2 linked regions of the Homo sapiens genome follow. The protein of the gene in region 1 interacts with the protein of each later gene in a pairwise test. Each region holds a gene or a part of one and is shown in the gene's direction. Other genes may lie near its edges.

Evidence for each region.
Region 2: the proteins of MYH7 (region 1) and MYOM2 interact in a two-hybrid assay, tested with the Homo sapiens proteins (one large-scale study listed by BioGRID and IntAct).

What each region holds. Positions count from the first base shown.
Region 1 is NC_000014.9:23,411,930-23,415,450, reverse strand, and holds the end of MYH7 (myosin-7), read left to right. Parts: coding exon 1-70; intron 71-180; coding exon 181-456; intron 457-1,348; coding exon 1,349-1,444; intron 1,445-1,557; coding exon 1,558-1,692; intron 1,693-2,579; coding exon 2,580-2,597; 3' UTR 2,598-2,711; downstream 2,712-3,521. UniProt on the Homo sapiens protein: Myosins are actin-based motor molecules with ATPase activity essential for muscle contraction. Forms regular bipolar thick filaments that, together with actin thin filaments, constitute the fundamental contractile unit of skeletal and cardiac muscle.
Region 2 is NC_000008.11:2,043,785-2,048,039, forward strand, and holds the start of MYOM2 (myomesin-2), read left to right. Parts: upstream 1-1,261; 5' UTR 1,262-1,384; intron 1,385-4,255. UniProt on the Homo sapiens protein: Major component of the vertebrate myofibrillar M band. Binds myosin, titin, and light meromyosin. This binding is dose dependent.

The sequences.
Region 1 (3,521 bases):
GACTGAAGTGGAGGAGGCAGTGCAGGAGTGCAGGAATGCTGAGGAGAAGGCCAAGAAGGCCATCACGGATGTAAGTCCCCCACTCCACCGACCCGATCCAGACCAGTGTCTCTCCGTGGGCTGGGCAGCAAGTGTGTGAGGACTTGACCAGACCATGTGCCACCTCTCTCCTGCACACAGGCCGCCATGATGGCAGAGGAGCTGAAGAAGGAGCAGGACACCAGCGCCCACCTGGAGCGCATGAAGAAGAACATGGAACAGACCATTAAGGACCTGCAGCACCGGCTGGACGAAGCCGAGCAGATCGCCCTCAAGGGCGGCAAGAAGCAGCTGCAGAAGCTGGAAGCGCGGGTGCGGGAGCTGGAGAATGAGCTGGAGGCCGAGCAGAAGCGCAACGCAGAGTCGGTGAAGGGCATGAGGAAGAGCGAGCGGCGCATCAAGGAGCTCACCTACCAGGTGCGACGGGCGGTGACTCCAGGCAGAGCCCTGGCACCATAGCCACAGTGACAACCAGCTGAGGAGAATGAAGAGTTTGCTCTTAGCCTCTTCCAGGGCGAGGATGGGAATGCAGCCCCCGTTTCACTTTGCCTAGCCCTGCCCCACTCTGAATGTCCCCTAGCTCAGAGGTCAGTCTCTGAGCCTCCTGGCCTGGGAGCTCCATCTCAACACCCACTCTTAGCCCATCGCCAGGGGACACACACAGAATTCCAGACAAAGCTCACCCAGTACAGCTCACCAGAAAGCAAATATGTAGCCAGGGTCACCCCCAAAAGACACCAAAAACACACCCATCCCATTCAAACAAGCATAAAAACTTTTTCATTGCCCAGGGCAGTGTGGACTCTAGCTTTCTGAGGTGTTTTCTAGAATCAGACTCTGAATTAGAATTTGTTTCTTTTCCAATCCAGGATGTCACTATCTCTCTAAGCACACTTTGTCCTTAACTTAGATTAAGTCAGTGTTTTCCTGGCCTGCATTGCAGCCCAGGAAATTCCATCACACTCATAGCCCCAAAGTCACTCCCAGCATGTGCCGAGGTCCAGAGCAGGGGACTTCATCCCGCATGGGGTCCCCGGACCCTGAAAAACCTGCTCCCTGGAGCACTGCACACACACAATTTTGTGCATAATTTCAGGAGTCCCACTAGTTCTTTGGACTCTTTCCTGGTACAGATCATTTAAAATATTTACACATATTTGGTAAGAAATTATAAGGAGAATTCAAGTGTTTAGTGAGGATCAGAAAGTAGAATTGGGTCAGGATATCAGATGAAGCAGGGCAGGGCGGAGGGGATGCTACCTTCTATGACTGTGCCATCTTCACCCCCTGCCTACCCTCTGGCCCCCAGACGGAGGAGGACAGGAAAAACCTGCTGCGGCTGCAGGACCTGGTAGACAAGCTGCAGCTAAAGGTCAAGGCCTACAAGCGCCAGGCCGAGGAGGCGGTGAGTGACCCTGCTGGGGACTAGGCCCAGGGGAGGCATAGGAGAGCTCGTCCCCCAAGCCAGGAGTCTGAGAACCCAGGCCCCCTCTCACCTCATGCTCCCACCTCCCGCAGGAGGAGCAAGCCAACACCAACCTGTCCAAGTTCCGCAAGGTGCAGCACGAGCTGGATGAGGCAGAGGAGCGGGCGGACATCGCCGAGTCCCAGGTCAACAAGCTGCGGGCCAAGAGCCGTGACATTGGCACGAAGGTGGGTCCCTCTTTTGGGCTTTGCTAGTCACCCCCACAGCAGGCATACCCAGACAGAGCACCCTCAAACCCGGGATGCTTCCTTTTCATTTATTCCACACACTTGAGCCACATGGCCCCAGAGGCCAAGGTAATGCAGTTCTCTGTGATTTCAAGGATTCTTCCAGCTCTAACTTTTTTTTTTTTTTTTTTTGAGACGGTGTCTCACTCTGCCGCCCAGGCTGGAGTGCAGTGGCACAATCTCAGCTCACTGCAACCTCTGCCTCCTGGGTTCTCCTGCCTCAGCCTCCCAAGTAGCTGGGATTATAGGCATGTGCTACCATGTCTAGCTAATTTTTATATTTTAGTAGAGATGCGGTTTCACCATGTTGGCCAGGCTGGTCTTGAACTCCTGACCTTGTGATCCACTCGCCTCAGCCTCCCAAAGTACGGGATTACAGGCGTGAGCCACCACTCCCAGCTCAGCTCTAAGTTTCAGTGGTTCTGGGAATTTCAGCCTTAGGGAGGGGTGCCACCCTAGAAGACCCTAATTTATATACAACCAGTATATCCCAGTTTCCCCCCAACTGCTAGTTTCCAGTTCCCTTCCACCTAATTTTGTCCTGCAATCTTGTAACTCAAACCTAAAATGGACATCCCAGAGAACCCGGGCCTGGCTTTGTTCTCGCCCAGGCAACTTCCCTCTGACCAACCCCAGAACCCTACCCTCCAGAACTTGCCCCCCGAACATCGATCCCTGGAAACACATGTGCTGCTGCCACAGGGGCTTCCACCTGCCCACAAAGCAGGCCCCCCACCATCAGACCCCTCTCACCTTTGTTCCCATGCCCTGTCCCTGCCCAATACCATCTCTCCAAGGACTGATTGGACTTTGTTTCCTTTCAAAAGGGCTTGAATGAGGAGTAGCTTTGCCACATCTTGATCTGCTCAGCCCTGGAGGTGCCAGCAAAGCCCCATGCTGGAGCCTGTGTAACAGCTCCTTGGGAGGAAGCAGAATAAAGCAATTTTCCTTGAAGCCGAGATCCTGACTCCAGACTCTTCTTCACTGCCCTGAGGACCCGGGGATGGGGTCTGGACTAGGGGAGGTGGAAATGCAGGGGAGTGGGGGCAAATTCAAAGGCCTGGCCTAGGAGGCCTTCGTGGAGCAGCACTGAAAACCCCTTTCACTTCCCCCAAACCAGCCAAATGCAGCAGAGGCGACACCTCTCCTCCCAGCCTTCTCCCTGGTCCAGCCAGGATTTAAAGGAGATTTAGGGAGACCCCTAAAGTTCACCTAGAGCACCCTGAGCCCATCTACTGTGGACCTGCACCCCAGCTTCCGTCAACCCTGCCCCACCCACCACCATGGATACTGCCCAGGGCTGGGCAAAGGGCAGCGGTTCGGGGTGTGGGTGCTGGCCAGTGCCCTTTCTGAGCCCGCAGAAGTGTGAACCACTGGGCCAGGTGAGGCAATGGCTGCCTAAGTGCCAGTCCCAGGCGAGTCTCTGAGAGTACACAAGGATTCACAGCTGTAGCCTGCATCCCCTTTTAAATAGAGCCACCACCCTCTCCAGCCACCGCCAGAAGCCAGCATACCCCCTGCCCACCACAGGTGGGAGAAACACACCCTCAGCCCACCTGCCGTCCTCCTCAGCTCCTCCTGGTGCCGAGCCCCCTTGGCCCAGGGTGCTCCCTTCTTCCCACTCATTTCTTCCCATTGTAATTCCCATTACCAAGCCCTTTGTCCTCTGGGCTTGTGGGAAGATGGGGTTCTCCTGGCCCATTTATGGCAAGCCATCTTGAGGGGAGGCAGACAGATGAGGGGCTGGGGAAGGTTATGTGTGAACAGGA
Region 2 (4,255 bases), on another chromosome or scaffold:
AAGAAGCTCCTGTGTTTTATAAGCTACACGGTCTATGGTGTTTTGCTAAAGCAGCCTGAATAGACTAAGAAATCACTCAACAAACACTAATTAAATTAAATGCTAGGCCATCAGAATACGAAGGGGAAGAAGACAGAAACACTCGCCTCCTGATCCAGCATCCAGAACGCTCTGGGGCCCAGCAAGAGGCTGTGCTCGCGTCTTTCTCGTATCTGATCTTCGCCTCCATCCACCTGCTCGCTGGTCCTTGGCTGTGCCTCTGATACCCCAGTGTGAGAACGTGGAGTTTCTTAAGGCAATTCTCTTATCATATTTTCTCTACTTGTCACAACAAACTTACAGGAAAGTTGTTATTCCATGCGTTTTAGAGCTGGGGAGCATAGCCCCCGTGGGCTGAGCAGCTGGCCGAAGTCCTCAGCCCCTGTGGTGAGGTGCAGCTGGAGTGTGATTCTCCGGGTCCTCAGATGGGGGCATCCCCTTGAGGCCCCGCCTCTTGGCCAGGCTGCAGCCCAGGACCGTGCCAGGTGTGTGTTATCTATATTTGGACACACGCTGTGCGAAACGACGGGCACCCTGCAATTATCCGTGTGGTGTAGACGCAGTGTACGTCTGTGGTAATGGCTATAAATAAGCCCCGACTTGCCGACTAGGCACCGCTCCTCTTTTGGGTAGGCAGTTCTTGCTAAAATAGCCCTAAGATACAATCGAGTGAAGACCTGAGTCGTTCTTGAAATAAAAAAAAAAAAACGAACAAACACACGAACATGCACACACACGCTCACAAACCCAGGGGCTTGTGCACCTCCCTCCCTCCACAGCCGACCTCAACTCGGGTGTCCAGGCCTGCGAATGGCACAAATGCTCACTGAAATCCATGTCATTATTAAAGACTCATTCAGGAGTTGCAATTTGTGAGCCAGGGAACCTGTAGCTCGAAAGGATTGAAGATATGTCTGAGAATTCACACGTAAGGATTAGAACTCATGGAGGAGAGTTGCGGGGAGGGAGCGTGGGAAGTCAGTGCCCTGCCCTCTCTTTCTGGGTCGGGGGCTGAAGTGTCACACCCGGTTTCCTGGGAAAAGTGCAGTTTGGGACTCAGAAAGGACACGTTCCAGTTTTGAATCGTGATTTCCCCCGCCCTCAGTTTGAACAAGAAGCTTTTCCTCCTGAGGTCAGGCTGGTGATTTACGATGTGGGTATTGATGTGGGGAGAGGCAGGCCCAGGCGTCTATATATAGTAGCTCCTCAGACCTTAAACGGGAGGGAGGCACAGGCGCTTGCTTTGCAGGAGTCAGCTCTGCCTTCCTCGGCTGGAGTGTGGGTGGCTTGGTGAGCCGGTGGTCAGGAATTCTCTCTCCTCCTTGCAATTTTCCTTTCTGTCTGGGTAAGTGTCTTTCTCTTCTTGCCTTTTCTAATTTGTGGCTTTAAGGGGAGGACCGGTAACTTCTGCACTCACATTTTCTAAGTACCTCTACTTCAGGGTCAAGAAGAGAGAGCCAGTGCACCCCGTCGCAGGCACCCTTTACTGTGGAAAACAGAGCAATTAGTTCTGGGATCTGTATTTCTTTGACGAGGTTTTATGCTCAACTAACATTTTATTTCCCACAGCCGTGGTCTTTGCTAAGTGCCGTTTAGCACCCTGCGGCGTGTGCTTTGGGTTTTAGCCCTGGTCTCATCGTGGCCCCAGGGGGCCCCCCAGTCAGTGGACTGATGTCTGCAAGTTTCATGAGATTCTCAGAAACGAAAGCCTCCCCCGAGGAGAGGGCTGACTTATAAAGGTGTGAAATAATAAAACTGGATATTTTCTTAAGGGAAAAAAGAGTCGAGGGTCATTCAGCTTAGACCTAGCCTATATTATCCACGGTATGGGAAAGAGAACAATCCTTGTCAGGACTTGCAAGTTTTTGCCCAAAAATGACAGCGTTCTTACGGCTGTTTTCTTCTTTGTGCTGTTGGGTGTGTTGTGACCCTTCAGACTTCTTCAGCTCCACTCCGCTGATAGAGGCTGTGCCTTCTCAGGGCGTGCTCTTGAAATGCAACCTGCTGGAGAAAGACAGTGGGGCTGGGTGGTTGCACGTGGAAGGCACCGGAGGCAAACGGAAGGAAGGGGTTTGCCATCACTGGGAACACCTGGCCTTTTCTAATTCTCCATTTCACATTCCTTTCTTACTAAGTAGAAGTAAAACAGGACTCAAAGAAAGCGTGGAACAAAGATAATTTAAGGCGTTATTTAATAAACCAAGTCCCAAGCTAAAACTTGTCTTGGGAGCCAAGGGCTTAGCCACTTGTGGCACAGGCCAACGCTGCGTGTCTGGGAGTCCCTTTCCCCTCTAGAAAGCTTTAATTTGGTGTATTTATTGACTTTGACATTTTTAACTGTACAAACAATTTCCTTCATTAAGTGGAAGTCAATGTTTTGTACTTCAAACATTTTTGCAAATTAAAACCCATCCTGGTGACATGAGGAATGGGCTCCACACGTTGTTTGCAGGAAGGAATTAGGATGGGGATATCAGACACGTGGTCCCCTGCACTGGAGGAGAGGCTCGCGTTTCATCCTGGTGTCATGATTCCTAAACGTGTCAGGAGCATTCCGGGAGTGGCCGGGGAGCTGGGCTGTGGTGGAAAGTGGGCTGGACGCTGTCAGGAGAGTCAGCTGGCGCCTGGGTTCGGCCGTGGCCCTACCGGTGACCCGGGCAAGTCATATTTCCCTGGGGACGGTCTGTGCTAACAGTACAGCGTGGCGCCAGGATTATCTACACACAGGCTGTCCAAGCTGGGGGACTGTTAGCTGCCACCTCACTCAGCCCCCTGTTTTACAGCAGAGCAGGTGGAGGCCCCTGAGCTGAAGGTCAGCAGGTCCCCACTGGAGTCTCAGCCTCCCAATGCGCCTGAGCCCCAGGGACTCACATCAAAAACTACCCTGCGAGGAAAAGCTGCTTTCTTTCTCTCTCTCTTTCTTTTTTCTTTTTTTTTTTTTTGGTTGGTGTGTGTAGGGGGTATTTAACACATGTCTGAGATAGTTCCTTAAAAAGGAAAACAGCTTTCTATGTAGACAGTAGAGGGACATTGGGGAGCTGATCGGCCCAGGTCCTGTCATTTTCTTTATAGTGTCATAAATAGTACAGGTTGATCATTCCAAATCTGAAGATCAGAAATCCAGAATGCTCTAAATTCTGAAACTTTGTGAGCGCTGGTATGACTCTCAAAGGAAATGCTTACATGAGCATCTCAAGTATCCAATTTCTGGATTTGAGTTGCTCAACCAGTAAGTATAAATGCAAGTATTCCACAGTCTGAAAAACAAATCGGGAATTGGAAACTCTTCTGGTCCAAGCATTTTGGATAAGGGATGCTCCACCTGTAGGGTGCATTTGGCAAGTCCTCTCCAGGGTTCCCTCCACTCAGAAGGGCCCTGTGCTGCCAGGGCTGCAGGCACCCAGCACGTGCTGAGTCAGTGGGGATTTGCTTGCAAAGACGTCATCACACCCGGCCAGGAGGTGGTGGCCCAGGCTGGGTGAGGGACACTGGGGAAGTTCTAACATAGGAAGTCCCCCAAGGAGTGAAGAGATTGCGGAGGGGACACACATTCAGGGTGGGTGAGGCTGGACGTGCAGTCCTGCTGGTTTTCTGGGTTGGGCATGTGATTGATAAAAGTGGAGTTGAGGGCACATTGGCACTGGGAGTCAAATGCGCAGAAGACTTGAGCTTGCTACTCTCCCGAGCCAGGAGCTCTAAGGTGTTTTCATTGTTGAAATCCAAGGGTTCTGATTTAGGCTTGGCTGGCACGTTGCAAGTGACCCCATACTTGTGGAATCAACTGAGGCTGATGGATTCTGCAAAGCCTCTGACACCTCCTGATTTTGGTGGTCCTGAGCATGAAGTGAGCAGGGAATACATGTGGGGATAAACGTGGCAAAGTGCCCTGTTACCCCCATCCAAAGACTTCCCGGGGAGACTTCCACAGTAAGGTACCATTGGAGTGAGGATTGCAGGAAGTGTGCACACGTGATCCCAGCTCTGCCTTGCTAAGCACTACAAAGTGTAGCCCCTCACACATGAAGTGTTTGAAGACTTCCAGGCCCACAGGACCGGATGTCACGTCAGTGATACATAGGTTGCATTGGACAGGACGTTACAGACTGGTTGAAGGATAGCTAGTCTGTGAGCTCTCAAGACCTGAGCCGTTTCACATTCTTCCAGGTCTTAGGTCTAAGGAGGAGGATTTCCATCCAGGGCGATTCTCCTCTTATTT